Linked DNA regions of Homo sapiens: regions 2, 3, 4, 5, 6 and 7 are each linked to region 1. The links come from fine-mapping of genetic effects on gene expression. A gene starts in region 1. Each other region holds a variant in brackets. All regions are shown on one strand. Distances are from middle to middle. Region 1 holds the start of TMEM255B (transmembrane protein 255B). Region 2 holds the start of GRK1 (G protein-coupled receptor kinase 1). Region 3 overlaps TMEM255B (transmembrane protein 255B). Region 4 overlaps TMEM255B (transmembrane protein 255B). Region 5 overlaps TMEM255B (transmembrane protein 255B). Region 6 overlaps GRK1 (G protein-coupled receptor kinase 1). Region 7 overlaps TMEM255B (transmembrane protein 255B).

Evidence for each region.
Region 2: its variant is fine-mapped to the expression of TMEM255B in whole blood (TOPMed, PIP above 0.99).
Region 3: its variant is fine-mapped to the expression of TMEM255B in whole blood (INTERVAL, PIP above 0.99).
Region 4: its variant is fine-mapped to the expression of TMEM255B in whole blood (TOPMed, PIP above 0.99).
Region 5: its variant is fine-mapped to the expression of TMEM255B in whole blood (TOPMed, PIP above 0.99). The same link has a PIP of 0.9 or more in lung.
Region 6: its variant is fine-mapped to the expression of TMEM255B in whole blood (TOPMed, PIP above 0.99).
Region 7: its variant is fine-mapped to the expression of TMEM255B in sun-exposed skin (GTEx, PIP above 0.99).

Annotation. Positions count from the first base shown.
Region 1 is chr13:113,756,739-113,760,803 of GRCh38, reverse strand. TMEM255B (transmembrane protein 255B) reads right to left here and starts at 1,578. Exons shown (of 9, transcript NM_182614.4): 1 at 1,489-1,578. The coding sequence starts at 1,534. RefSeq lists enhancers at 859-1,360, 1,917-2,418.
Region 2 is chr13:113,664,131-113,668,195 of GRCh38, reverse strand. It overlaps GRK1 (G protein-coupled receptor kinase 1), which reads right to left and starts at 977. Exons shown (of 7, transcript NM_002929.3): 1 at 111-977. The coding sequence starts at 809. The variant T/C (reference allele first, on the strand shown) is at 1,548.
Region 3 is chr13:113,816,072-113,820,136 of GRCh38, reverse strand. TMEM255B (transmembrane protein 255B) reads right to left here. Exons shown (of 9, transcript NM_182614.4): 9 at 3,142-4,065. All of the region lies in intron 1 of GAS6-AS1 (GAS6 antisense RNA 1), which reads right to left. It also overlaps LOC124903220. Among named protein-coding and RNA genes, the nearest start is that of GAS6-AS1, 2.5 kb to the right of the region's middle. The variant C/A (reference allele first, on the strand shown) is at 2,161.
Region 4 is chr13:113,806,366-113,810,430 of GRCh38, reverse strand. The region is part of intron 8 of TMEM255B (transmembrane protein 255B); the gene reads right to left. Among named protein-coding and RNA genes, the nearest start is that of GAS6-AS1, 7.2 kb to the left of the region's middle. The variant G/C (reference allele first, on the strand shown) is at 2,492.
Region 5 is chr13:113,798,741-113,802,805 of GRCh38, reverse strand. TMEM255B (transmembrane protein 255B) reads right to left here. Exons shown (of 9, transcript NM_182614.4): 5 at 3,387-3,467; 6 at 1,894-1,979; 7 at 994-1,153. Among named protein-coding and RNA genes, the nearest start is that of GAS6-AS1, 15 kb to the left of the region's middle. RefSeq lists an enhancer at 772-1,646. The variant A/G (reference allele first, on the strand shown) is at 1,743.
Region 6 is chr13:113,735,879-113,739,943 of GRCh38, reverse strand. GRK1 (G protein-coupled receptor kinase 1) reads right to left here. Exons shown (of 7, transcript NM_002929.3): 7 at 2,208-4,065. Among named protein-coding and RNA genes, the nearest start is that of LINC00552, 13 kb to the left of the region's middle. The variant G/C (reference allele first, on the strand shown) is at 1,583.
Region 7 is chr13:113,793,270-113,797,334 of GRCh38, reverse strand. TMEM255B (transmembrane protein 255B) reads right to left here. Exons shown (of 9, transcript NM_182614.4): 4 at 2,098-2,187. Among named protein-coding and RNA genes, the nearest start is that of GAS6-AS1, 20 kb to the left of the region's middle. The variant G/A (reference allele first, on the strand shown) is at 2,446.

The DNA of each region.
Region 1 (4,065 bases):
TAACCCACCCCCGATACCCCAAAGCAGAAAGACCATAATCCACCCCCAGACACACCAAAGCAGAAAGACCATAATCCACCCCCAGATACCCCAAAGCAGAAAGACCATAATCCACCCCCAGATACCCCAAAGCAGAAAGACCATAACCCACCCCCAGATACCCCAAAGCAGAAAGACCATAATCCACCCCGACACACCAAAGCAGAAAGACCATAATCCAACCCCAGACACACCAATGCTTTATACATTTTAGTAAAAGACCAGCTCCAAACAAAAAGACCCATAATCCTACCCAGATACACCAATGTTTCATATACTAAAAAGACCAGCTCCAAGTATTGTTTTAAGGTTTAAAGTTCTTTGTCAGAAGAAAATCTAAGTCAGATGCTATTTTTAAACATTAAGGCATTCTAATAATGATAAAACTAGTTAATAAATAATAATAATAGTTATCATTATTAAACACCAATAGACTAATCCACATTAATACATTTGACCATAGAGCATTTTGCTTTAGATTGGAAGGCATATAGTGGTTTCTTTTAGAAAGAAGCCAAATTATTTGATTATTTTAAGTAACAGTAATTCGTCCGGTTCCGAACGATGCCGCAGTAAAAGGGTTGTGAGGTTAATCCCCAGAAGTTTGTGTTGGATTATTTCTGAGGGAGCGGCAGAGCCCCCTAGACACCACTCCATCCCTCCCTCCAGCCGTCAGGGCTTCACTTTCTAGGGAACTCTGTTTCTCTTTTGTTCTGAAATCTGCCCAGCCCTCTCCCCCTCAGGAAGACACCCGGCATCCTTCCAGTCCTGGCCACTTCCCGGCAGAGCCCCCGAGCCCGGCTTGCGAACTGGTGAACACGCAACAGGTTTCCTGTTTTCCCAGCCTTTGCCTGGCTCCGAGGCTGCAGCGGGCTTGGTCTGGGAAGTGGAAGAATTGGAGATTCCGTGAACACACCGGGGAGAAACACGAGAGAGGGGCGAGCCGAAACCAAGCAACACTGTCCAGTTCTGTGAGCGCCTCTGCACGTTCAAACAGGAAAAGGCTACCTCGCTCTTCCAAACGAAGTTTTCCCGGAAAATGGTGTAGGTTGGAATAAACGGAAGAGATGGGGAAGGAGCGCACTTTGGGGCGCCTGTTCCTCATAATAAAACGTAACAGGGAGAGAGAGGCCAAGAGGAACGGACACAGAGTCAGAGAAAGGCAAAGACTGAGGAGGCAGAGACAGAAAGAGCGAGAGAGACAGAGACAGAGACAGAGAGAGAGACAGGGAGAGAGAATGAATGAACGAACCGGTAGGACGAACGCCCGACCCCAGTGCGAAATGCAAAGTGTTCCAAAGACAGAGCTCGAAGGAGGCGGAGGGACCAGACCCCGTGCCGCGTCTCCGCGCAGGTTCCGCCCGGGCCGGCCGGGGACCTGTAGTCCCAGCCCCGGGGTCCCCACGCTCCCCCGCAGGAGCCGAGACGAGCCCCCAGCCCCGCGCTCACCTGCGGGGTCCAGCAGGCCCAGGGGCCCGGGCACCGGCGGCTGCATCCCGAGGCCCCACCCGGCTCTCCCGGGGCCACAGCCACAGTCCCGCCGCCAGGAGCCGCCCTCGCGGCGCCGCCCCTTCCCCGCCCCCTGCACCTCCCCGCGCTCCGCCCGCCTCGCGTCCTTCCTCGCTCTACTCTCCCTTCTCCGGCGTTTCTTCTCCTCCCTCCCCCGCTGCGCCCGCTCCCCCTTCTCCCCTCCAGCGGCCGCCTGGTTTCTGGAAATCAGGACGCCGCGGCCGGGAGTGGAAGCCAGACCCCAGATGGAAGGTGCCTGGAGAGGACCCTGCGGACTCGGGGTCGGAGCCCCGGCCTGGGACGGTGACCCCGGGCCTTCCGCCGCTGGCGCCACGCTCAGCCCTTGGCGGTGCCGCTGAGTGGGTCACCACGGGTTCGCCTCCCCATTGGCCGGTGACGGAGCTCCTTGGGGCTACAGGGCCAGCCAGCCCTTGATCTCTGGGTTCAGAGGGTGGTACATGGTGTTACAACCCAGTCTGCGAGGAACGAGTAAATGAGGAACAAACGCAAATGAGTAAATGAGGAACAAACGCATCTGGCACCTCACTCAGCAGCCCCGAGGCAGGGCTGACCCGCCTCTCCAAGGCCTGCGTCTTTGTGTCCACAGCACTGAAGTTGTTCTGAGTAAAATCTGCTGCTGGAAAGAAGGGCAAGGAAACACGGGGCCAGAAAGGGTGCCTCGTACAGCAGCAGGAAAAAATAAAGATCCTTCTAAACGTATTTTTAACATCTTTGAGTCAAGGACATCAGCGGTCCCGTCACAAAAGAAGATGCTTGAACGATCAATAAACTCAGCCCCCGGAATTAGGGGAACGCTGTGGGAACAAGAGGATGCGTTTCACCCTCATCCTATCAGAAAACCCCAAGGGTCAAACAACTTAAAGAATGTTAATGAAAACGTGGGAATCTGCATTCACCGCTGGGATCACGCATGGTGCCACCACTTTGAAAGCAACCTTTAGGAAAATTGAAGCAAGTAGATGACAAGCCAGAAAGAAAGCATATCTCTTTCTAGATATGCCCAAGAACACAAACATAGATCTGCTCCTTCGAGCCAGGAGCCGTGGTTCTCAACCCCGGCTGTCGTTAAAGTCATCCAGGAATGTCTTTAAAAGAAAAAACATTTCTGCAGCACTGAACCCAGACCAGATCAATTGAACCAGAACTTCTGGGAACAAACTAATAGCTAAGAATTCCCTAGTCATTCTAATAGGCCATCCACTGTGAGAGAGAAACTACCACAAGAAGTATGCATGTGCTAGAAGATGCGTACAGAATATTCCTCACAACACTGTGTGTCCAAAGCACCGGACACACCCTGAATATCCAACACGGGGAGAAGCGATAAAGAAATGGGCATATACAGCGAAATACCACATGGCAGTTAAAATAAATGAGAGCTACATGGATCAATGTGGATAAATGCCAAAAACAGAACGCGGAGCAAAAATGCAAGTGCACAGTACGGCAGCGAGTACGACAGCAAGTACGGCAGCGAGTATGGTACCATTTATATAAAGTTTTAAACCATGAAAATTAACACTGTTCACTCAGTGAGCCTCTCAAGACTTACTAAACATCCGCGATATACCAGACACTGTTCCAGGTACTTGGGATGTATCAATGAGCAACGTAAACAAGGATCCTGGTGGGGAAGTGAGGCCATGAATAATAATACAATAAACAAGAAAAATGCACAGCATGTCAGAGGGCAACATGCTATGGAATACACACACACATATACACATACACACATGCAGACATACACACATGCATGCACATACACACATACACACACATGCATATATACACATGCATACATACACACATGCATGCATGTGTGCATACATACATGCACGCATACATACATGCACATACACACATGCATACATGTGTGCATACATACACGCACACATACATACACATACATACACACATGCATACATACACACTTATACGTGCATACATGCACATATGCACATATACATACACACATGCATGCATACACACATGCACACACATACACATGCACACATACATGCACACACATGCACATACACACACATACACACTTATACATACACACACATACACACATACATACATACACAGCCAGGTAATGCAGGCCACAGAAAAAGGAAAGAGAGGTAAAGAAACAAAATAGAAAGTATAGTGTGGGAGAGGGAGGGAGCTGTGGTTTTTAAGTAGTGAAAAGAGAGCTTGTTGACAGGTGATGTTGAAGACCAAGCTTGAGGGCGTGGAGGTGGTTGCTCACCCAGACATCTGGGGCAGAGGGTCTGAGGAAAAGGAACCTCCATGCAAAGGCCCTGGGGTGGAGCCATCCAGGCCCAGGGGGAGCAGCAAGGAGACCAGGGTGCCAGAGGCTTGTGGGGACCAGGTGGAGGACATCAGGGGTGAGCCGCAGGGCCTCTGGCCTTTGCTCCGAGTGATGTGGGGGTTATTGGAGGGTCCTACACATAGGATTACTGGAGAGTAGTTGTAGGATAGCAGAATGGA
Region 2 (4,065 bases), 93 kb after region 1:
CAGCTGTTAAGGGCCCCGGAGCCGACAGTGACCTGGGGGCCCTCTGCACCCTGCCGCCCCATCCCTGCACCCTGCCACCCCATCCCTGCTGGCCGGGTCGCGCTGCTCACCTGGTAGCCCTTCCTCTTCTTCAGCCGCTTCTTGTTCAGCTTCTTGCAGGCATACAGCTTGCCGGTCGCCTTCATCTGGCAGGCCGACACCTCCCCGAAGCCCCCTTTCCCTAGGACCCTGAAGTCCAGGAACCAGTCCTCCCCCATGGGCTGGGCTTCCAGCCACTTCCACTGCAGGAACCTCAGGAAGTACAGGCTGCCCAGGTACTCCTGGAAGGGGGCTTGGCCCAGGTGTGCCAGGGTGGCCTGCAGCAGGGGCTGGAAGAGCCCGTCCTGGATCTCCACAGGCCCCTCCTTAAACTTCGCCACTATCCCCTCATCCAGGAAGCTGCAGAAGAGTTTGGCCTGGGGGTCCAGGTACTGGGCCAGGATGGTCTGGGCCTTCTGTGGCTGGAGGTCATTGTCTGCCGTGTCATAGTCCTCGATGTCTTTCCAGAGCTCCAGGGCCGGCAGGTGCTTCTCTGCCGATTGTAGGAACTGCTGAAAGAGCTTCTTGCCGATGGGCTGCTCCAAGCACACACTCTCAAACTCCAGGCTGAGGCTGTCGCGGAGGGACTCACACTTGGACAGCGGGGGCAGCTTGAGCTTGGCCAGGTACTTCTTGTCCCGGGAGGGTTGGGAGCTGCTGCCGTCAAAGCTGCCTCGGGCGGCGATGAAGGCAGAGTTGGCCACCACGGTCTCCAAAGACCCGAAATCCATCCCGGAGCTTCCTGCCCGCTTCAGGCGTGAGGGCCCATCAGCCGAGGCCAAGCCGGGAGCGTTCACAGACAGAGCAGGCCTGACTGCTGCCCTTGGCCTGTGGCCCGTCCCTGCCCTTGCTGGACGAGAGAGACGCCCTGGCCCTGTCGAGGGTTCCTGGGGACCACTGGGAAGCCCCTGGGAGCCCGGGGCTGACACAGCACCAGGCTAAATCCCAGCCGGGGTCACGGAGGACGCTTAGGAGTGGCAAGAAGGTGCTAGAAAAAGACAATCCCCTGAGCTGCTTGGAATCCGATTAGATCATTCTGCCCGGCCCCTTCCTCCAAGGGGCCGCCTCACTTTTCCCCTGAGAAGGACAAACAACCACCAGGCTTCTGGGGCCCCTGGCTGGAGAGGCACTCAAAGCTCTGTTCTGAGCTGCTCCATCCAGCCCCTGGCTTCAGCAGCCAGGCTCAAGCCTGCTGTTTCCTTGGGATGTGGGCCTGACGGAGAGGATGGAGCCGGAAGAAACCGTAATTTACAAAGGCTGTTTTTCCCTATTTTTATTTTTAAGAAAATAGCAAATGAGAAAGAAAACCACCTGATAATAGGAATTTAGAGAGGAAAAGAAGCCCACAGTGACCAGCTTCCTGGGGGTCTGTAGGTGAGACCACCAGCGCTTACTGAGGGGTCAGTTCCCAGTCATTTGTCTTCTTCTCACCTGGGGTTTGCAGGCAAGGCAGGATTGTCAAGAGGCAG[T/C]TGCTGGTGACACCAGGACCAGGGAGCAGAAGATCCCCGGAGCTACATCAAACCAAGGCCCCACTCAGAGGGACGCATATGGAATACAGCTGGGGCTCACCTGGGACACACCTGGAATCCACCTGAGAAACACCTGGGGTACACCTGGGGCACATCTGGGACACACCTGGGACAGCTGGGACACACCTGGGGAACACCTGGGACACACCTGGGACAGCTGGGACAGCTGGGGAACACCTGCAACATACCTGGGGCACACCTGAGACCTGGGACAGCTGGGACAGCTGGTGAACACCTGGAACACACCTGGGGCACACCTGAGACCTGGGACAGCTGGGACAGCTGGGGAACACCTGGAACACACCTGGGGCACACCTGAGACACACTTGGGACAGCTGGGACACACCTGGGGTACATCTTGGACACACCTGGGACAGCGGGGGCACACCTGGGGCACACCTGAGACACTTGAAATGCAGCTGGGGAACACTTGGGACCCACCTGAGACACACCGGGGGCACATCTGGGGCACACCTGAGACACACCTGAGATACAGCTGGTGCACATGTAGGACACACCTGGGAGAGCTGAGGCACACCTGGGATATGCCTGGGGCACACCTGAGACACCTGAGACAGCTGGGGCACACCTGGGACACACCTGGGATGCACCTGGGGCACACCTGGGACACACCTGGGATGCACTGGGGGGCACACCTGAGACACCTGAAATGCAGCTGGGGCACTTGAGACCCACCTGAGACACACCTGGGGCACATCTTGGACACACCTGGGACAGCTTGGGCACACCTGAGACACCTGAAATGCAGTTGGGGAACACTTGGGACCCATCTGAGACACACCTGGGGCACACCTGGGATACAGCTGGTGCACACGTAGGACACACCTGGGACAGCTGGGGCACACCTGGGATATGCCTGGGGCACACCTGAGACAGCTGAGGCACACCTAGGACACACACCTGGGGCACAGCTGGGACACACTGGAGACAGCTGGGGCACACCTGGGACAGCTGGGGCACACCTGGGACAGCTGGGGCACATCTGAGACACACCTGGGATGCACCTGAGACACACCTAAGACAGCTGAGGCACACCTGGGATACAGCTGGGGCACACCTGAGACACACCTGGGACAGCTGGTACACACTTGGAGCACACATGGAATGCAACTGGGGCACACCTGCAATGCAGCTGTGACACACCTGGGACAGCTGGGGCACATCTGAGACAGCTGGGGCACACCTGGGACAGCTGGGGCATACCTCGGACACACCTGCAACACACCTGGGACACACCTGGGGATGGTCACACCAATAGGATTGTCAGCTTCATGAGGGCATGGCCCTGCCTGTCTTATTCCAGCACACAGTAGGTACTCAATAAAGGTTTGGAGAAGAATGAGGAGGAATTCAGCAGGGGATTGGTTCCAGCTCACACAGGGAGGAAGCAAAGGGTCGCAGAAAGGAAGAATGCCGGAGCATAGAGAGGTGGAGACTGTCAGCCCACCCCATTCCACGTGGGAGAAGAGGCAACTGTGGGAGGGCACTGGGGGCTGCACCTGGCAGGGTCTACAGAGGCCGAAGCGAGGGCCCGCAGACCGAGCCGACGTCCCCACGGTCTCCTGAGGGCTTTGGCAGGTGGATCACGAGTAAATATTTGAGGTGAGTGATATCCCATCGTTCACCAGGAGCCCTGCACGGGCCCAGCCCTGCCCTTCACAGCAGTGACCTTGGGCGGATCACGTTAACTCCTTCCTGCCTGCTCACCCAATGGGGCAACTGTGGTGCTTTGTGAAGTGTAGCCGTCTCTGCTGACGTCTCGCTGCCTGTCCTGGTTCATGCCTCAAACAGCTACACACATGAATCGCCCGGAGACCTTGCTGGAATAAAGAGTCTGCTTCAGTGGCCAGGTGGGCCAAGACTGCACCTGTAACAAGCTCACAGGTGGTGCTGATGCTGTGGAGGCGTAGGGTCTGAGGAGGATGGCTTCCTGTTGGACTGGGGGCCGTTCCACCTGCAGTCATGTTGGGAAGCGTTCGGTTAAATAAAGTTAAATATGTTAAACAAGCAAAGTTAAAAATATGTGAAACGTGTCCATCACAGGGTTTATTCAGTGATTTCAGAGTGAACGTGTCTCTCAAAGAGAAGTAAAGTATGTCGTTTCCCAAATTCATTTGGCCCTGAAAATCCCTTTTTAATTAAACTCTTTATTCTGTGATAATTGTGGATTTACATGCCATGTTAAGAAACAATCCAGAGAGATCCTGTGTACCCTTAACTCTGTCTCCTGTAATGATGACATCTTGCCAAGTAGCGAGGATATTGGCATCCATATGGCTGAGACAGAGGCCGCCTCCATCCACGGGACCCTCCTGTGCTGCTCACAGATGCACCGAAGTTCCCCCAGCCCGCCCTGCTCAATGCCCGGCAACCACGACTTCTCTAAGCACGTCACATGAATGGAGTCAGACACTATGTAGCCTTTCAGGACCTGCAT
Region 3 (4,065 bases), 59 kb before region 1:
ACCCTCCTGCACAGATCCACTTGCTTCCGGGCCTCAAGTGTGTTCTGTTGAGAAAGGGAAACTGCTTTCTCTGTGTCGGTCTGGGGTAGAGCTTGCCAGGAGCAAAGCCAGCCCTGCTTCCCGCGTCCCCACTGGCAGGGTCCCCATGTCCCTCAGCCTCAGCTTCCTTGTCTGCAAGGGGTGGAGCGGTCACTGGTGCTCTCTGACCCCAGCAGGCCACAAGTCTGCAGGGAAGGTCAGGGCAGCCGGAACGCGGCCAGGCAGGTGCCTGAAATGCAGTCGGGACCCTGCCTGCCTCCTGGAAGGATGTCGGAGCCGCAGCTGGTGGGGGCCACGGAGTCACTGCTTCTCCTTGGTCCCAAGGGGACGACCAAGACTCATGGCTTGACGCTCCCGTGGGACGCGGCCACCTGTGCTCGAGCCTCTGGGCCAAACATGGGTCCCCAGGGTGGATGCGGTCACTGCAGGGGCCACACGGGGGATCAGGGAGGGTTTCAGCTCTGAGGCCCAAACCAGGATTCCACTTTAAGACCAAACCCCCACCCGTGCTCGGAGCTCCCTGGGCAGGAGTGAGACGGGGCAGCTCGGAGCAGCCCCACCTCCCACCAGTCAGTCCCAGAGCTGCGCCCACCGGGCAGGACAGGCTGTGCGTCGGGGCATCTTTGCCTCTGCCTGGCTGGGGTCAGCACTTGACCTAGAGAAAAGTCGGGTGGAGAAGAAGGATAGAATCCATGAGAACCCATCCAGGGATAAATCGCCACAAATGAACTGCAAAGAGGTTTCTAGAAAGAGGCCTGTGGCTTTGAAGGCCACAGGGGAGGCCCCGCTGGCTGGACTGACAAGGTGGCATCGGCCGAGTGGGCTCCTGAGGGGCAGCCTCGGGCCGGGAAGGAGCGGCTTCCCTCTGGCCCCCGGCCTGACGGCTGTGGAATGGGCAGAGCTTCTCCAAGGCTCGGGAGCCAGCAACACTCATGCCCACCTGGAGGGACCCTGCCCGCCTGGGCCGAGCTCACCCCACGGATGGACGGCCAGCCAGGCACCTTGCCAGGGGCCATGCACAGGGGGCCCCATCCCCTGCCGTCCAGAGCCGCCCAGCTCGTCTACGCTGGAGCCTCCAGGCCCTGGTGGTCCCTGAGGGTCCCTGGCAGGCCCACCCTGTGTCTCTGGGGCTCTTGTTGACCGGTGCCAGTTATGGGCTCCTCGGGCCACATCCCATGACCCTGCGCCATCGTGGGCATGATGCCACTTGCTCTGGACACGCCGGGCAAGGGCCTCTTGTTCTCCCCAAAATCTTGGCAGCACCTGGGCAGAAGTTCTGTTGATTGAGGGCTGCAGCCTGAATTCAGGACTTCAACCTAGTCTAAGAGGTATTGCAGGCAACTTTCGCTTCGGTACCGTGAGAAAATAGTGACGGGGGAGGCCCTGGCCTCAGAGGGCAGACGTCAGGCTCCTGCCGGCTCCCTTCGGAAACGTCCATCTGCCGCCAGCGGCCCCGCGTGTGTGTGACGGCTCTCGCCAGCCTCGCCCAGCAGCACGTGGACCTTCCGCAGGCAGATGCGCTTTCTCCACTCGGGCCGGGACAGATGGCCACCGGCTGCTCACACGGTCGGGGACCCGCAGCCCAGGCCTCCACGCTGGCTCCGGGATGTCCAGGTGCTGGTTGGGCTGAGGATGGTCGGGCCCAGGGCTCGGATCTGGCCATCAGCACAGAAGCCCAGTTCTGGGAGGCCCAGGCGTGGATGCTGACGGCTCGCTAAGCAGGCCAACTCGTCTGACCCCGACGATGCCAGAGCCAGCTGAGCAGAGCTCCAAGAAGCCCGTGGAACACAGCCCCCTGGGCCCCAGGAGAGCCCTGCACTGCCCACTGCACGGCCTCACACGGCCACAGGGGCCACAGCCGCACGCTGGGATCCCAGGCTCCAGCCCGGCACCGCGGCGTCCCTCAGATCCCGGCCTCCAGCCCGGCACCGCGGTGTCCGTCAGATCCCAGCCCGGCACCGCAGCGTCCCTCAGATCCCGGCCTCCAGCCCGGCACCGCGGCGTCCCTCAGATCCCGGCCTCCAGCCCGGCACTGCGGCGTCCGTCAGATCACATTGGTGGGTGCCCCCCAGTGCTCTCCCATAATGTTCCCCAGCCGGCTGGGAGCCTGCTCCTGCCCAA[C/A]CTCCATCCTCCCCAAGTCAAGACGGCCAGGAGCAAAAACAGGCAACGGCCAGTCTCAGGGACAGAGACGTGGGGAGGCCCCCACAGACACAGGCTACAGTCACCAGTGTCCTCAGGACACAACCCTCCGCCTGGGTTTCTGCTCTGCCTCCAGACGAATCAGGAACTTCTGTTTCCTAGTATTGTTTTCTTAGAGTTCCGGGGGTGCCAGAAGTTATAATAACCACTGTCCCAAACAAGCAAAACCAATGGTGCTAGGAATTGCAACACAGAGGCCCAGCCAGGCCTGTCACGTTGGCGACCTGGCACCCTCCACAACCAGGCATGTCTGGGGTGTGCAAGAGGATGGGAAGACAGAGCACGTGGTGCAAGTGCTGGTGCCCTGGGGAGGCAGGAGGGATGTGCCCCTTAGAGGGAGGAGGGATGTGCGCCCTGGAGGGAGGAGGGATGTGCCCCCTGGAGGGAGGGGTGATGTGCCCCGTGGAGGGAGGGGGGATGTGCCCCCTGGAGGGAGGGGGGATGTGTTCCCTGGAGGGAGGGGGGATGTGTCCCGTGGAGGGAGGGGGGATGTGTCCCGTGGAGGGAGGGGGGATGTGTCCCCTGGAGGGAGGGGGGATGTGTCCCGTGGGGGGAGGGGGGATGTGTCCCGTGGGGGGAGGAGGGATGTGTCCCGTGGAGGGAGGGGGGATGTATCCCGTGGAGGGAGGGGGGATGTGTCCCCTGGAGGGAGGGGGGACAGCCCTGACTCTGGGCTGGAGAGGAGGAAGGAGGTTGGGCATGTGTTTTGCAGGTGGGGTCCTTTGATGTGGCCGCGTCCTGTGCACAGCAGATGCAGCATCGCCCCCTCCTGGACACCCAGCCTCATGACAACACGAAATGTCTCCAGAGGTTGGCCACTGTCCCCTGGGCCCGGGCACCTCTGGGGAAACACTGCTCTAAGCAAGAAGGAACGTTTCGTCCTACTTCACGTAATACGGCAAATATGAACATCAGATTTTTAAATGCCAACGGAAGCATAAAGCAAATGTACAGCCGGGCTAATCCCAGCACAGCCCATTTGTAGGAGAAGCTCCAGCCACAGCCCCTGCCTGCAAAGCAAGAAGGGTCACCTGCCCCAGGGTCAAGGACTCCACGAGGGGAGAGGGGGAGGGTCCGCTCCATGGTGCCCTTGTTTCAAGCACGTTTTCTGCTTACTGAATTCCATCAGTTAAAAGGTCTAGGAAACAGAAAAGGAAGTGGCGCGTGTCGCCGTCTGAGGATCTGCTGACGGGCCCCGGCCTCGTGGAATCCTCTTCTGCCTCTGTGGGTCTCCAGAGTTTCGGAGGCATCTCTGCTCCCACCGCGGGGTCTGGTGGCCACGGGGTCCCCAAGTCTGCAGGAGGAGCTGCTCTGTGTGGCGAGGGTGATGACCATGGCTCTTGTTCACTGAGCAGGGCCGGTGGCCAGCACTGTCCAAGTCACCAGTGCAGCCCCATAAGGCCATCTTCACAACATCCTTGGGGCCCGTTTCTCCCACTCCCGTTTCCATGGAGATGTGATTCACACAGCAATAGCCACGCCTCATGAGTGCAGAGCATGGGTCGGTGGTCAGTCCATCCACGGGGCCGTCCACCCATCACTGCCATCTGGCTCCCGGACACTCCTCTTCCCACAAGAACTCGTGTCCCTGACCAGTGACTGCACCTCTCCCCATCCAGAACACGCTTAGAACACACTTGCCTCCCCGAAAAGAACTCGTATCCCTGACCAGTGACTGCACCTCTCCCCATCCAGAACACGCTGCAAACACGCTTGCCTCCCCGAAAAGAACTCGTGTCCCTGACCAGTAACTGCACCTCTCCCCATCCAGAACACGCTGCAAACACGCTTGCCTCCCCGAAAAGAACCCGTGTCCCTGAGCAGTGA
Region 4 (4,065 bases), 50 kb before region 1:
AGCGAAGAACGGCACAGATTTTAAATTGATACATTCTAGTTTTTCTCCAACTGCTAACACACATCTTAATTCTTTTCTTTTTTTCCCCTTAAATTCTAGGGGGAACTTCTAATCAAATTTTAAATAAATAAAGCAAACAAACTCCTTCTAAGAAATAACACAGGAAGAGTTTTTCAAACTCCAAGCTACCAGATGTGCTCTGTGCTCCTCTTGCCCCAGCCTGCAGGGTCCCATGAGAAGCCAGCTGCCTGTCTGAGCCTGCGTGTTCAGCATCCCCAGAGAAGCCAGCTGCCTGTCTGAGCCTCTCCCTGGAGAGCTCTGCACTGCAGACGCCCTGGGAGCTAGCAGGACCTCTGGATCCTGACAGCAGAATTTCTGCACAGGTGTAGGTAAGGCTGAGAATGGGGCCCTTCCTCAGAGGGACTGCAATGTTGAGGTTGACAGCCCAGGCTCATGGGATCCAGTGGTTCAGGGACACCTGCCAACCTCATTTCTTTCTTCCCCCGAAACTCACACAGGTTTCTGGCCACAGGCGACAGAGTGAGACACTAGGGAACATTCTCTCAAGTCTGCTGGGAGCTCCCAACTTCCAACTCTGTAGCACCCACTCTTCTTCACAGCAGATGAGCAGTTAAGGAAACTAAGGGGTAAACCCCAGGACCACAGATAAACCCCAGGAACCCATGGAGTAACTCCCTAGGAACCACCGAGTGAACCATGGAGTAAAACTCAGGAACCACGGAGTAAACCCCCAGGAACCACGGAGTAAAACTCAGGAACCACGGAGTAAACCCCCAGGAACCATGGAGTAAACTCTCAGGAACCACGGAGTAAACCCCTCCCCCCAGGAACCACAGAGTAACCCCTCCCCCCAGGAACCACAGAGTTAAACCCCCGGGAACCATGGAGTAAACCCCCAGGAACCACAGAGTAAACCCCCAGGAACCAGAGTTAAACCCCCAGGAACCACAGAGTAAACCCCCAGGAACCACAGCATAAATCCCCAAGAACCATGGAGTAAACATCCAGGAACCACAGAGTAAACTCCCAGGAACCACAGAGTAACCCCTCCCCCCAGGAACCACAGAGTTAAACCCCCGGGAACCATGGAGTAAACCCCCAGGAACCACAGAGTAAACCCCCAGGAACCAGAGTTAAACCCCCAGGAACCACAGAGTAAACCCCCAGGAACCACAGCATAAATCCCCAAGAACCATGGAGTAAACCCCCAGGACCATGGAGTAAACATCCAGGAACCACAGAGTAAACTCCCAGGAACCACAGAGTAACCCCTCCCCCCAGGAACCACAGAGTTAAGCCCCCGGGAACCATGGAGTAAACCCCCAGGAACCACAGAGTAAACCCCCAGGAAACACAGCATAACCTCCCCCCAAAAACCACAGAGTAAACCCCGAGGAACCATGGAGTAAAGCCCCAGGAACCAGAGTAATCTCCCCAGGAACCACAGAGGTAAACCCCCAGAAACCACAGCATAAATCCCCAAGAACCACAGAGTAAACCCCCAGGAACCATGGAGCAAACCCCCAGGAACCACAGCATAAATCCCCAAGAACCAAGGAGTAAACCCCCAGGAACCACGGAGTAAACCCCCAGGAAACATGGAGTAACCCCCCCCCCAGGAACCACAGAGTTACACCGCCAGAAACCACAGAGTTAAACCCCAAAGAACCACGGAGTAAACCCCCAGGAACCACAGAACAAACCCCTAGGAGCCACGAAGTAAACCCCCAGTAACCACAGAGTTAAACCCTCAGGAATCACAGAGTAACCACCCAGGAACCACGGAATAAATACCCCTGGAACCATGGAGTAAACTCCCAGGAACCACGGAGTAAACACCCCAGGAACCATGGAGTAAACCCCCCAGGACCACAAAGTAAACCCCCAGGAACATGGAGTAAACCGCCAGGAACCATGGAATAAACCCCCAGGAACCACAGAGTAAACCCTGGGACCACGGGGTTAACCACTGAATGACAGGGCCCCCCTAGGGACAAGCCCTGCCCACGAGTAATCTCACAGGGGAAGGGAGGGCATGTTTCTTAGTAACGGGGCAGGAACTCATCTTCTGCTGTGATGCCACGTCCTCCCCTGCACTTCATGCCTGGCAAAGCTGCTGGGTGCAAGGAAGGTGATCTCTTTAAATTGTCCTTTTTATTAACTGCTCAAAACCTCCCCCACCAAGTCACTGTTCCCCATCCCCCACTGTCTCAAGTGGGAGTATTTTCTGCTGCTAACGACTTCCATGGAACACCCTGAATATTTTCTCTCCATCTCTGTGGAAGCAGGGCCCCTCCTCCATTGTTCTTCTGAGGAGCACATGAGCCTCATCTGATTTGCCATCTCTGAAATCCAATTATCAGCGTGCGTATATTAAGCTCCCACACATGCTGGCCTGGCACAAAGGCTGGCTGGGCCATCTGAGGGCCCCAGGCCTCCCCAGAGGAAGAGGGGAACATCCACCCTTTGC[G/C]TAAACCCAGAGCCCCAGGGTGGATGAGGATGGAGCACCATGGGGATGAAGTGGATCTGCCCCTGTGCCCCCCACGTCCCGTAAGCCCGCGTGTGACGGGGAGGACCACCCCCCACATCCCGTAAGCCCTCCTGTGATAGGGAGGACCGCCCCCCACATCCCGTAAGCCTGCGTGTGACGGGGAGGACTACCCCCCACATCCCATAAGCCCACGTGTGACAGGGAGGACCACCCCCACATCCCGTAAGCCTGCGTGTGACGGGGAGGACCGCCCCCCACATCCCGTAAGCCTGCGTGTGACAGGGAGGACCACCCCCCACATCCCGTAAGCCCACGTGTGACAGGGAGGACCACCCCCACATCCCGTAAGCCTGCGTGTGACGGGGAGGACTACCCCCCACATCCCGTAAGCCTGCGTGTGACAGGGAGGACCACCCTCCACATCCCATAAGCCCGCGTGTGACGGGGAGGACCACCCCCACATCCCGTAAGCCTGCGTGTGACGGGGAGGACCACCCCCCACATCCCGTAAGCCCACGTGTGACAGGGAGGACCACCCCCACATCCCGTAAGCCCTCGTGTGACGGGGAGGACCGCCCCCCACATCCCGTAAGCCTGCGTGTGACAGGGAGGACCACCCTCCACATCCCGTAAGCCTGCGTGTGACGGGAAGGACCACCCCCACATCTTACACCTCCGTGGGGCTCACAGGCAGGGAGGACACACCTGCCTGAGGGAGTCACCAGCCCCTCCCTCCACAAAGCCTCACTGTCTCCAAGGTCCCAAGTCAGAATGCAAACTTGGAGAAGCCGGGCCCCTCACAGCCAGAGCTTCAGACAGCCGGGCCCCAGCACCAGGGCGGCCCAAACCAGCCCTGGAGCCAGAGAAGAGGAAGGGGCTGATGGAACCACGTGTTGTCTCTCCTCTGGGGCCCTGAGGGGCAGCGGCTGAGGTTGAGGATGGAAGACAGCATGGGCCACCGAGGCTATGCTCTGGGCTGCACGTTCTTGGCACCCATGCGATTCCAAGTCTGTGTCTGTGTAGAGCCGCTTGGGGAGCACCTGCAGGCCCAGCGTCCCTGGAGATACCTCTGCCCCTGCGGGCCTCCTCCTTCTACCCCTGCGGGCCTCCAGTTCTGGGCTTGGCAAACTTCCCACGGGAGACCAGGAGGCCAGAGAGAAGCCCCCAGGACAGGGCTGTGGCCCTGGGGGCACGGTCCCTGCCATGATGGGGACGTCCCTGGGGCAGGGGCAGGAGGCTTGGGGAAGGATGAAGCTGCCTGTGGCACCAAGCAGACGCGCCTGCCTGCAGGAGTGACCACTGCAGGGTCGCTGGCAAAAGCTCCCGCCATCTGACCCTGGGGACCACATCTTCCCCCGTCACAGAAATGGAAAAGATGTTTCCAGGCCAGACCTCCAGCAGGGGCCTTGTGTTCCCAGGGAGCAGGGCCCCAGCTTTATATTCGAAGTGAGAGGGGAGACTGAGGTATGAGGTGCAGGGATCCCTCCACGAGGAGATGTTGTCAGGCCCTGGTCATCTCCACTGAGCCCAACAGCTGCTGTGTCCCGGGCATG
Region 5 (4,065 bases), 42 kb before region 1:
ACTGGGTGGGGAGCCAGAGGGCTGGACCTCGGGATGCCAGGGTCACTCTCAGCTTCACCAGTTTTGTCTGGAAGCACAAAAGTGTTGAGAAAAGGAGGAGCTGAGAAGCAGATGGCAGGAGGGTTCCCAGCTGAGCTAATTTTTAGTCATGGACAGCCTCTGGGACGAATAGGGCATGGAGAAGCCGCTCAGGAGTGTTTTCGCTGCCTCGCTGGGCCGGGTCTGGCCTGCATGATGTGCGTCTGCCTGGTGCTGCCAGGCCTCCTCATGTGGGTGCAAGAGGGGGCGCCCCTCGTCCCTGGGCTGCCGTTTGGATACTCTGGGGGTTGGGGCTCCCTCACTCCTGGCTGCCCATCCCTTACAGCTTCTCTGCAAGTTCAGGGGGCGGGGTTTGCTGGCCGCACACCACGAGAACATCTGGTTTGAAACAGGCGCCAGGAGAGGGCAGAGGAGGGAGAAGAGAGAGGACATCCGGCCCGGGCCAGTGATTTCCCTGTGGTTTCCCGGGCGAGGGCCGGCCTTTCCAGGATGGGTCCAGCCCACCTCCCGCGAGGGGCCCCTTCCCTCCCTCCTCCTGCCCAGGCCAATCCTGGCTGTATGGGTCTCGCCTCTGGGGTTTGCTAAGGCATCAGCTCAGCCCCAGCCCAGACCTGCCCATCTGAAGCCCCAGGCAGTTGCTAATGATGGGAGCTTAGTGCACAAGGGCTGGGCCTCCCTCTTGGAGCTGAACATTGTTTCTTGGGGACGGCTGTGCCCACCTCAGCGGGGAGGCAAGGATTAAATCAGGTGATTCTTGTGACAGGCTTGGGACAGGACGGCCCCGAGGTGAGTCGGTGCACGCCAGCTGTCACCCTGACACCCTGCTGACAGACGCATGGGCTTCAGTGCCCCATCTGTAAAGTGAGGGCTGGAGGCCCCCCAGCCCACCCCGGGGAAATGGACCCGGAGCCCCGGCTCCCAGTGAGCAGCGGGGGTCCCACCAAGGGGCCTCACCATGTCCTTGAAGGCCCCCAGGACGGCGGCGGTGATGATGCCCAGGAACAGGCCCAGGACGTTCAGAACTGCAGAGGCCCAGAGCAGGCGGTACAGGTGCAGCACGTCCTGGCAGCCGCTGACGCCGATGAACTCATAGTAGGCGGGCGAGGGCTCTGCGCTGCACAGAGAGGGCACCATGGCGTCACCGCACGAGGCAAGTGACCACCCGCAAGTTAAACTTGTGTCCTCTGGACCTGAGCCCTGCAGGGCTGGGGGAGGAAATCAGGGCTGGAGCCCAGTCAACGCCCATCCCTGCACTGCTCTGGGAGATCAAACCTATGTCTGATGGGATTGGCCTGTGAGGCTCCCCACCTGGGGCCCACAGTGGCAAAGAGCGGCAACTGGGCCTGGCGGGCCCGCCCCTCCGCCTCGATGGCCTGGCAGGACGGGTGTCTGGGCCCCGGCTGAGCCATCTCTGTCTTCACGCCAGGATGGGAAGGCCGTCGGGGTCACGGGCCCCTGTCCCAAGAGGGGGCCATGCCTGGGGCCTCAGAGGCCAGGCCAGGTTTAAACTCTCGCCCGACACACACGGGCTGTGTCCTCTTGGGCAGATCAACATTTCAGAGCCTCTGTCTTTTCATCTGTGAAATGGACTCAATGTCCTTTCCTCATGTAAACATCTAAGGAGTAAAGGAGACGATGTAGGTGCAGGGGTGTGGGGGGGGTGATGTCAGGAGCAGAAGGATGGAGGCCTCACCCCTGCAGGC[A/G]CATACGGGGGTTCCCAGCGCCCCTCACCTCCCTCAGGTGTAGATATAGGGGTCCCCAGCGCCCCTCACCTCCCGCAGGTGTAGATACGGGGGTCCCCAGCGCCCCTCACCTCCCGCAGGTGTAGATATGGGGGTCCCCGGTGCCCCTCACCTCCCGCAGGCATAGAGGTCACAGCAGTAACAGGTGTTGCTTCTCACCTTCAGCTGGCACTTGCCGTCCAGGGAGTGACAGGTGACCTGGGGCAGAGAGGCCTTGTCAGGTCACATGCCGGTGCCCACCACCTCACCCACCCCACCAAGGGCAGGGCTGCCTCATGGGAGCTGGGAGCGGCCACTGAGGCCCAGCCAAGCAGCTGCCTCCCCCGACTTTCCCCCGACTCCAGACACAGAGGCTTGGGGGCTCGGGGGCCAGGACCCTTCCTGCAGGAGGGGTCAGGGGCACAGGCTGGTCCCAGAGGCCGGATAATCGGGGCTCAGAGGAGAGGCCTTGCTTCTCCATGATCCCAGGAGCAGAGGGAAATATCAGGGTGCGTGGGCAGAAGGACAGAGCCCAGGAGGCCTTCGGCGTGGGGTGCACAGAAGCCTGAGAGCCCGGAGGGCGGCAGAACAGGCCCCGTCCCAGGGCGCTCTCCCCCCAGGCTTGAGCACTGGCAGCCTCAGAAGAGACACCTGCCACCTCTGTGTGACAACCTTGAAAGCCCTGGCCAGGGGACACCCCCCAACACACACACACACACACACACACACACACACACACACACAGAGGACGCCTCCCCTGACACACACACACAGGACACCTCCACACACACACACACAGGATGCCTCCCCCCCACATACACACATGGCATGCCTCCCGCCTACCCCCCCCCACACACACACACAGGACACCTCCACACACACATACACATACACACACAGGACACCTCCCCCCTAAACACACACGGGACGCCTCCTGCCTACCCCCCCCCACACACACACACATAAACACACACACACACACGATGCCTCCCGGCAGCTGCTGGAGAGTCCCAGACAAGCTGGCAGGTGCTGGCCACTGAGAGGGCCTCCAGCTCCTCCTCCTCTGACACGCGTGCTGAGGATGAGAGGCTGCGTTTAGTTAAAGCCAGGAATCCACACAGGGCAGGTGCGAGACACACAGAGAGCGCCGTCACAGAGCTGTGCCCTCCGACGGTCCTGGCGAAGGCGGCGGCCGCCCGCGGGTCATTACTCCCCGCATCTCACTCACCTGGAAAGAGAAATGAGGTCACACTGCCGCTGTCGGTGGCTCAGGGAAATCCAGAAGTTTCTCGGACACTGTAAATGTATTATCCTTGCTTCTTATTGCAATAATTAAATTAGAAAAATGCTAATTGGAAGAGCCATACAGAACTGGACACGTGCACTCTGAGACTGTTGTGATTTAATGAAGCAAGTCCAGAACTCTGACTCCAGAGTGAAATACAGCACATCGAAATGTCAAGGTCCCAAACACAGGGGGCATCAACGGTTCACCAGCTGCAGGGGTGACCCCCAGGAACTATTAGAATCAAAATATTCAGACCACGCCTATGTGCAGGGAAAACCGCGTGGGGTCGGCGGGGTTAGCTGAGCAAAACCCACATGAATCTCAGTGCTCCTGCTCACCTCTGTCTGGTAGACATCGTACAAGTACCCCACCCCACTGGAGTAAAACTGGCATCTTCCCGTGGTGAGGGGCCTCGGTTCCTAGAGAAACAGATAAACACAGATGGAATAAAACAGGTGCCTCCAGGCGGGAGAGGCCAGAGGCAATTTCAGGCCTGTGGGTCTCAGGCTCAGGGCCTCAAGGACCAAGGCCAACACCAACTTGAGCCTCCCAGACACAGAACACAAGATGGGAGACTCCACGCTCCCTGCAGAGCAGCTGGGCTGCTGCATCCAGGAGGCCAGACAGCAGAAAGCCCCATGGGAGGGTACCTCGGGCCATGCATATTCTCCATCAGTCAACAAGGGCAGCAGAAGGGAGACAGGTGCTTGGCCTTTTGAGGGGCATCCCTACCACCCCACATCACAGGTGTTAGGCTCCTGCATCGTTTCATAAAAGAAAATATTGTCTCTTCTACTAGGAAGGTAGCAAGAAGGATTTCAGACCAATAAACTCATCCCTCCAACCATCCAATCATCCACCCACCCACCCAACCATCCATCCAATCATCCAATCAATCATCTGTGCATCCACCCATTCTTCCTTCCATCCTCTACATCTATCTATTCATTCATCCATAATGCATCCATCATCCATCCTTCCATTCATCCACATCCATCCATCCACCCATCTGTCATC
Region 6 (4,065 bases), 21 kb after region 1:
GCCCACAACAGAGGGCCCAGATGAAGAGTCCATAGAGACATCTGCCCGGAGGGCACCGAGCCACGTGCAGCAGCACCAGGCAGGCAAGAATAGCCCTGGATGCCTTCCTTCATCCCAGCTCAGCCCTGAAGAGCCAGAGGCCGAGGCTGGCCACAGGAAGCAGGGCCACTCTGCAGGCAGGTGGGCATGAGACACATGCACCGCCACCGTCAGACACTGCAGCCCCGCGGGAACGGAGGCACCAAAGCTCATCGCATGTGGAGCTGTGACCATTATGGGGCCACGCACACTGAGCCCCTGAGAGGAGGCTGGTGCTGCCTGGGTGGGGAGCAAACAGGCGGGGGCAGGCAGTGTCAGAGCTCCAGAACTGGGCAGGGCCCGCCGGGGTGTCTCCGTAGGATCATTGACTCAGCATTCGTGATGTATTTTCTCCATGGGACACAAAGATTTAGAAGTTTTTAAAAATAAAGTGACAAGAGGCCGGGCACCGTGTCTCACGCCTGTAATCCCAGCACTTTGGGAGGCCGAGGCCGGCAAATCACCAGCTCAGGAGATCGAGACCATACTGGCTAACACGGTGAAACCCCGTCTCTACTGAAAAATACAAAAAATTAGCCAGGCATGGCAGCGGGCGTCTGTAGTCCCAGCTACTTGGGAGGCTATGGCAGGAGAATGGCGTGAACCCGGGAGGCGGAGCTTGCAGTGAGCCGAGATTGCACCACTGCACTCCAGCCTGGACGACAGAGCAAGACTCCTTCTCAAAAAAAAATAAATAAAAAATAAAGTGACAATAGGGCTTTCGAATGCCTTGTATGAATGCATGGGGTGAGCATGAGTTTCATCGAGGGGTGAAAACACCACTCAACTGACCCAAGAGATGGCAGAAGCCAAAAACGAAGCTGCTTTTGTGGTTTTATCCCAACAGGTTGCCTGTGCAGTGGAACCACTGCTGATCTTACAGATAAATATATAATCTGCAACAGGCTTGCCAGAGTTAACCAAAAGAAAACTGCGGAACATCCCATTAAATCTGAATTTCAGAAAAATGATGAATCATTTTTTAGGTCAAGTATGTCCCAAACACTGCATGGGATAGACTTACACTAAAAAATGATTCCTTATTTATCTGAAATTGAAATTCATTGGGATGTCCTGTATCGTGTCTGGCAACCCAGCCCTAAAACAGGCAGAGGGTCTTGCTGGTGGGCCTGGGGGGGCCACGGGGCTCTTTGGCACCGGGAGCCAGGCTTCCCTCCACTGCTGCGACCACTCATAGCCCCTCCAAGCCCCCTGATCCCAGTGAAGCCAGGATGAGATTGCTTACCTGTCCAGGGCCATAGGAATGCAAGGCAGGTTAAAATGGGTTTAAAAAATCAGAAATGGAGTCTTTCATGTTCCAGAGTGTATGAAGTGAGACTGATAGCCATTACCTAATCGATGTGTAACATTCTAGAAAACAAAACAGGAGGCCGAGGCGGGCGGATCATCTGACGTCAGGAGTTCAAGACCAGCCTGGCCAACATGGTGAAACCCCATCTCTTACTAAAAATACAAAAACCCAGCACTTTGGGAGGCTGAGGCG[G/C]GTGGATCACGAGGTCAGGAGATCAAGACCATCCTGGCTAACATGGTGAAACCCCATCTCTACTAAAAGTACAAAAAATTAGCCAGGCATGGTGGCAGGCACCTGCAGTCCCAGCTACTCGGGAGGCTGAGGCAGGAGAATTGCTTGAACCTGAGCTTCTCGGGAGGCAGAGGTTACAGTGAGCTGATATTGTGCCACTGCACTCCAGCCTGGGTGACAGAGAGAGATCTGTCTCAAAAAGAAAAGAAAAGAAAAGAAACAGAAAGGGAGGGAGGGAGGGAAAGAAGGAAGGAAGGAAGGAAGGAAAGAAAGAAAGAAAGAAAAGAAGGAAGGAAAGGAAAGGAAAAAAAGAAAAAGAGAAAGAAAGAGAAGGAAAGAAGGAAAGAAGAGAAGAGAAAAGAAAGAAAGAGAAGGAAGGGAGGGAAGGAGGAAGGAAGGAAGGAAGGAGAAAGAGTGGGCACGGAAATCTGTCCTGCAGGCCGCTTCCCACGGGCCTCCTCCTGTGCCTGCCTGCGCCTGCTCAGGTGCACCTGGATGGGTAGTTTTATGTCAAAAAGCACTGGACGCCCCACAGCTCCTCCTGAACATCCCAGGTCTCAGAAGTGTCAGACGCTCAGAGCCAGGACAGGAGGAGGCCGGGAGGTTTATTTTGCAGTCCAGGTTTGCTTCCCAAGAACAGTCTGCAGGTGCATGAGGCAACTTGACAGGACATATGAAAGTCTCCACAAAACCAGACGATGTGGAGTTCTGTTGAGATCTGTGGGAAGACGTGCTCCTCACCCAGGGTGTGGCCGACGTGGGTTCTATGGGAAGACATGCTCCTCACCCAGGGTGTGGCCGACGTGGGATCTATGGGAAGACGTGCTCCTCACCCAGGGTGTGGCCGACGTGGGATCTATGGGAAGACATGCTCCTCACCCAGGGTGTGGCCGATGTGGGATCTATGGGAAGACGTGCTCCTCACCCAGGGTGTGGCCGACGTGGGATCTATGGGAAGACATGCTCCTCACCCAGGGTGTGGCCGATGTGGGATCTATGGGAAGACGTGCTCCTCACCCAGGGTGTGGCTGACGTGGGACCTATGGGAAGACGTGCTCCTCACCCAGGGTGTGGCCGACTTAGGATCTGTGGGAAGACGTGCTCCTCACCCAGGGGCGTGGCCTATCTTCCCTCCAGAAGCTCTAAAACCACATAGGAGGGAGTTGGGTCCCCATTTTGGCTGCAGCCAGCAAATCTCCAAAATTGTGGATTGCCAGGGTCCTCTTCTCCCCAACAGGAAGAGGACGACCTGGCAGCCTGAGGACTGTGAGGGCATAGGCCCTGCCCACTGCAGCACTGACTCTCAGGCAGCTGTCTCTGCCATTTCTGGGAGAGAGGCCGAGACCCACCAGTCCAGGCTACGGAGGATCCATCTCTTCCACTCCCTGCAGGACGTGACACCCCCAAGTGGGACCTTCCCAAGCCACCCTGTCTCCATCAGTCACATCATCAGCCACTTGCCGCGGCCCCTCTCACCAAATTAGAGTAGACAGGGCTTCTTTCTACCACCAGCTCTGCCCCAAGGCTCACGGGGACGTCCTACCATCTTCTCTCCCCGTGACCACATGTGGCAGGGTCAGGCTTCTTCTCCCACTGGTACAACAGTGGCCGGGGCTCAAAGGAAGTTCTTTCCTAAAAGGAGCTCAGAGGCCCTCTCTGGAAAGGAGTCCTCAGGCCGCCCATCACCACTGCTTCCCTGCGGCTTGGATGCACTCCCTCTGAGCCGGCTGCTGAGGCCATGGAACCCAGGCCAGCACCGCCGGCCCTCAAGAGGGAGTGTGTCCTGGAGGCAGTTGCAACAGAACTAACTTCCTGCAGTTAAAACACACAAAGCATTTGGGGAACCTTCAGTGTTCAAAGTGCAGTTGGAAATGCCAGGTGCATTGTGGGTGGGGCCGAGCTGTATGAGAAGGTGGGCTGTGAGTGTCTTCCCGGGCTATGGCTTTAGGACTCCAGTGCTGCTGCTACTGGGAACACAGAGAGGGGTTGCAGCAAGGAGCTCTGTCCCTATGCACAAGGCCCGTGGCCTGAAGTGTCCCCTGGGAGATGAGACGGACCAGCCCCAGTGGGGAGGAGGGTCAGAGAGCAAACGGTCCTGGCTTTGCCCGCCAAGAGCAGCTGAGGTGCTTCCGGGACTCAGGGTCAAGACAGAAAACATTTTCAGCTCCCCAGCTCAGGGGTGGGAACTTTGCACCAGCTGCCGTCAGCTGGACACCCTGAGATAAGGAGACCCCAAGATGCACTGAGACCCCCAGACTCCACACCCGCTCCCCTCCTCCCAACAGCCCAACAGAGCCTGCGCCTGGCAGATGTGGACCATGGCACCCCGGAGTGCAGGGGACCATGGTGCCCCAGTGTGCAGAGGACCACGGCGCCGCAGGGTGCAGGGGACCATGTGGCGTGCAGGCCACCAGCACAGGGCCCGGGCACCCTGGAAGTCAGGA
Region 7 (4,065 bases), 37 kb before region 1:
CTCAGCAGCACACGAGGCAGTGCCACATTTTCCTCGATGGCATCTGAGCTCCAGTGAGTGCTGTCTGCGCATCCGTCCTAAAGTCAGCCCTGGGAGGCCCCGGCCAGGGGCCCTGCTTTGTTTCTAACCAAGAGGCTCCCACACTTGCCTAGATGCATGCCCCGCGTGGCCCTCCAGAATGGACAGGCGCCCGAGGTCCGGAACCTGGGGACACCCCCGACTGCGGTCAGAGACTGGACCCTGCTCCTCGGCGGGGCCACGGCCACGGGCGCCTGGAGCACAGTGGAAACCACCGTCTGGAAGCCATAGAATAGCAAGTCACCCAGCCACCCGCTGAGAAAGCTCCCATGACGCACCTCCGTGGGAGTGTGTGTGTGCGCGCGAGTGTGAGCATGTGGGCCGTGGTGTGTGCATGCGTGCGCACGCACGTGTGTTTTGTGAATGTGCTCCCACACTTGCCTTCATATAATGAAACCGTTGGGGCAGACAAAGGCCTAACACCAACCTTCAGTGCCTTTCAGTGTGATTTATGGAAAAAGAGGGAGAAACAATCACAGGTTTGGTCTGAGAGTTCATGACAAGCAATTCGGCTGCTCCCGGGGACCAGCTGACGCCCAGATGGCGAGAGCCCACCCAGGAGCCCAGCCAGGGAGGAGGGGGGATGGCGCAGCCCACCGGAGGCTGAGGACGCACCTCAGGAGGACACAGAAACGATTCCTTGGCCTGCGACTTTAGAGAAAACCTGTTCATTTAGAGGTGAAAAGAGCGTGGTGTGGTGTGTATGTGTGTGTGGTGTGTGCTCTGTGTGGTGTGTGTGCTGTGTGCTCTGTGTGGTGTGTGTAGTGTGTGTGGTGTGTGCTCTCTGTGGTGTGTGTGGTGTGTACTCTGTGTGGTGTGTGCTCTGTGTGGTGTGTGCTCTGTGTGGTGTGTGAGGTGTGTGCTCTGTGTGGTGTGAGGTGTGTACTCTGTGTGGTGTGAGGTGTGTACTCTGTGTGGTATGTGCTCTGTGTGGTGTGTGAGGTGTGTACTCTGTGTGGTGTGTGAGGCGTGTGCTCTGTGTGGTGTGTGAGGTGTGTACTCTGTGGTGTGTGCTATGTGCTCTGTTGTGTGTGTGCTGTGTGCTCTGTGTGTTGTGTGCTGTGTGCTCTGTGTGTTGTGTGGTGTGTGCTATGTGCTCTGTTGTGTGTGTGCTGTGTGCTCTGTGTGTTGTGTGCTGTGTGCTCTGTGTGTTGTGTGGTGTGTGCTGTGTGCTCTGTTGTGTGTGTGCTGTGTGCTCTGTGTGTTGTGTGCTGTGTGCTCTGTTATGGTGTGTGTGCTGTGTGCTCTGTGTGTTGTGTGCTGTGTGCTCTGTTGTGTGTGTGCTGTGTGCTCTGTTGTGTATGTGCTGTGTGCTCTGTGTGTTGTGTGGTGTGTGCTGTGTGCTGTGTTGTGTGTGTGCTGTGTGCTCTGTGTGTTGTGTGCTGTGTACTCTTATGGTGTGTGTGCTGTGTGCTCTGTGTGTTGTGTGGTGTGTGCTATGTGCTCTGTTTTGGTGTGTGTGCTGTGTGCTCTGTTGTGTGTGTGCTGTGTGCTCTGTTGTGTGTGTGCTGTGTGCTCTGTGTGTTGTGTGGTGTGTGCTATGTGCTCTGTTTTGGTGTGTGTGCTGTGTGCTCTGTGTGTTGTGTGCTGTGTGCTCTGTTGTGTGTGTGCTGTGTGCTCTGTGTGTTGTGTGGTGTGTGGTGTGTGCTGTGTGCTCTGTTGTGGTGTGTGTGCTGTGTGCTCTGTGTGTTGTGTGGTGTGTGCTGTGTTGTGTGTGTGCTGTGTGCTCTGTGTGTTGTGTGCTGTGTGCTCTGTTGTGGTGTGTGTGCTCTGTGCTCTGTTGTGGTGTGTGCTGTGTGCTCTGTGTGTTGTGTGGTGTGTGTAGTCTGTGTGGAGAGGGAAGTTCGTTGTGTAGGAAATGAGACTTACTGAGAGGAGAGACAGTCACTGGCAACCCCCAGCGTGGAGACTGACGGTGAAGCCGTCTGAGCTGAGATCTGCAAAATGAAATTGTACTTTTTTCACGTCGACTCTTTCAGCCCCGGAAAGCGACTGTGCACACAATGACAATGTACTCACAATGTGCTGTGCTGCAAATACGCCGTCCACGATGGCGCAGCAGAAGGCGGCCACCACGCCAAAACTGATAAACACGATCGCTGCCACCAGCTGCAACAGAAGGAGAGGTGTGGGTGCCCAGCTTTTACCAACCCCGGTTTTCAAACGCAAACCAATTCAAAGTCCCAGCTCGAGGTCGGGGCTTCTTTCACAGAACTGCCTCTTCTCACCTCTACCTTTCGTCCTATGACTTCCAGCCCTGGCCAGGCCGGACTCCACCCTGCGGGTCGTCCTCACGCGTCTATTCCGCAAGACCCACCCAGGCGCCTTCTGCACGGAAGGGCGTTGCCATCCCCGGGCCCTCGGCAC[G/A]CGCCTCTGAGAAGCAACCCCAGACGGCAGGGCGTGTGCCCAACCCTAATGTGTGCTCATCACACGCACACACATGTGCATGCTTGACACAGGCCTTTACAGTCATCGGATCAGCTTCACACACTGTCGCACAACCTGCTTTTCCTACCTAATGGTCTTGGAGCTTGGAGCCAGGAATGGTTTATAGTGCGTTAGTTAACCAGTGCACTCTGATGGATAGTTAAACAGTTGGCAATTTCTTGCCACTACAAACTCTGCTATAAAGCGGGGTGTCCTGCCCTAACCCTAAAAACTAGCAGGGAGTCTCCATCCCCGTGGACCCCTGACCAGAGGGCGGGTGCTGTCATTCTTTTCTCGGTGCCTGGCTTGGTACCACGCTGGGCAGAGCAGACCCTCCTGAATGGCCGCTGAAAACTGTGGCCCCGAGTTGGCATCTCGCTTGGTTCCGTCCCGATGGATGAGTTGTCGGCTCGGGAAAGAGGTCCCAGTGACAAGCAGAACCCATCGGTAACAGCAGAGGGAGGGCCTGTGGCTCGGGCACATGGTGCTACACAGGGACAGGGGAAGCCTGAGTCTGTTCGGACCTGTCCTGCGCACCAGGCACGAGCGTGGGTGCTCGTCCAGACTCAGAGCAGAGCCGACCGAGCAGAGTGGTCTCCTCCTCACACTTGCAAAGACGCCCGGCAGAGGCACCCCGACCTTCCTTCTCCCTGGGGAGCCAAGTATGTGGAGAGAGGAGTTCCATCGACCGTGACCCTCACGTGGAACTGCTGTGGCCTCTTCCCCCGATGTCAGCATGGCCCTGTGTGTCCATCTCTGCCCCAGGCTGCACACCTATCGTCACCCGCAACCCAAAGAGAAGCCAAATCCAGCCCATCTGCCAAGGCTCTAACGCTACCCGCTGGATTCGCAGGTGGGACGCATTCCCATCAGGCCCCACAGCAGCAGAAGGCGGGGGGTGGGGGCTGGCGGGCCCAAACCTTTCAGGCCATGGACCAGTGGTGGCCGCCTGCCCCTCCCTCTCCTTCTGACCCTCCACACCACAGGCCCGCTGGGGGTCCTCCCTGGAAGCCCCATCAGAGCCGGTCCAGGGCGCACCACGCTGCTGGCCAAGCCCTTTTGCGGAGGAAAGTGCAGCTTCTTTTTTAAACAGTGGGCACCCTCACTGCGAGTCTGGGTGTTTTTATCCTTCAGCAGAGGAAGAGCTGTCAACTGGGGGCTTCCTGGTGAGCCCACGCTTGGCAGTCACCGATGCCACCTTGCATTAAATGTGAGTGATGAGGCGGTAGGGCTGGGGCAGCGGGCCGGAGAGCGAGTCCACAGAAGTCAGTGCGTCCTTGGGTGGGTCCCAGACCGGCACGGTCCCTGCGTGAGTCACAGAGAGATGGTTCTCCCACCTGCTGGCACCTTTCTTCTCAGGTGGGTCCCAGACCGGCACGGTCCCTGCGTGAGTTACAGAGAGATGGTTCTCCCACCTGCTGGCACCTTCTTCTAAGGCAACTTTCCTCCACAGCAGATCAGACGAGACATTCTGAGAGCTCAGACATCAAGCACGTGCCCTTCCAAAATACATACTTTAGGTTTACGAGAAGAGGTAGGTCTGAACAAAGTCCGGGCAGT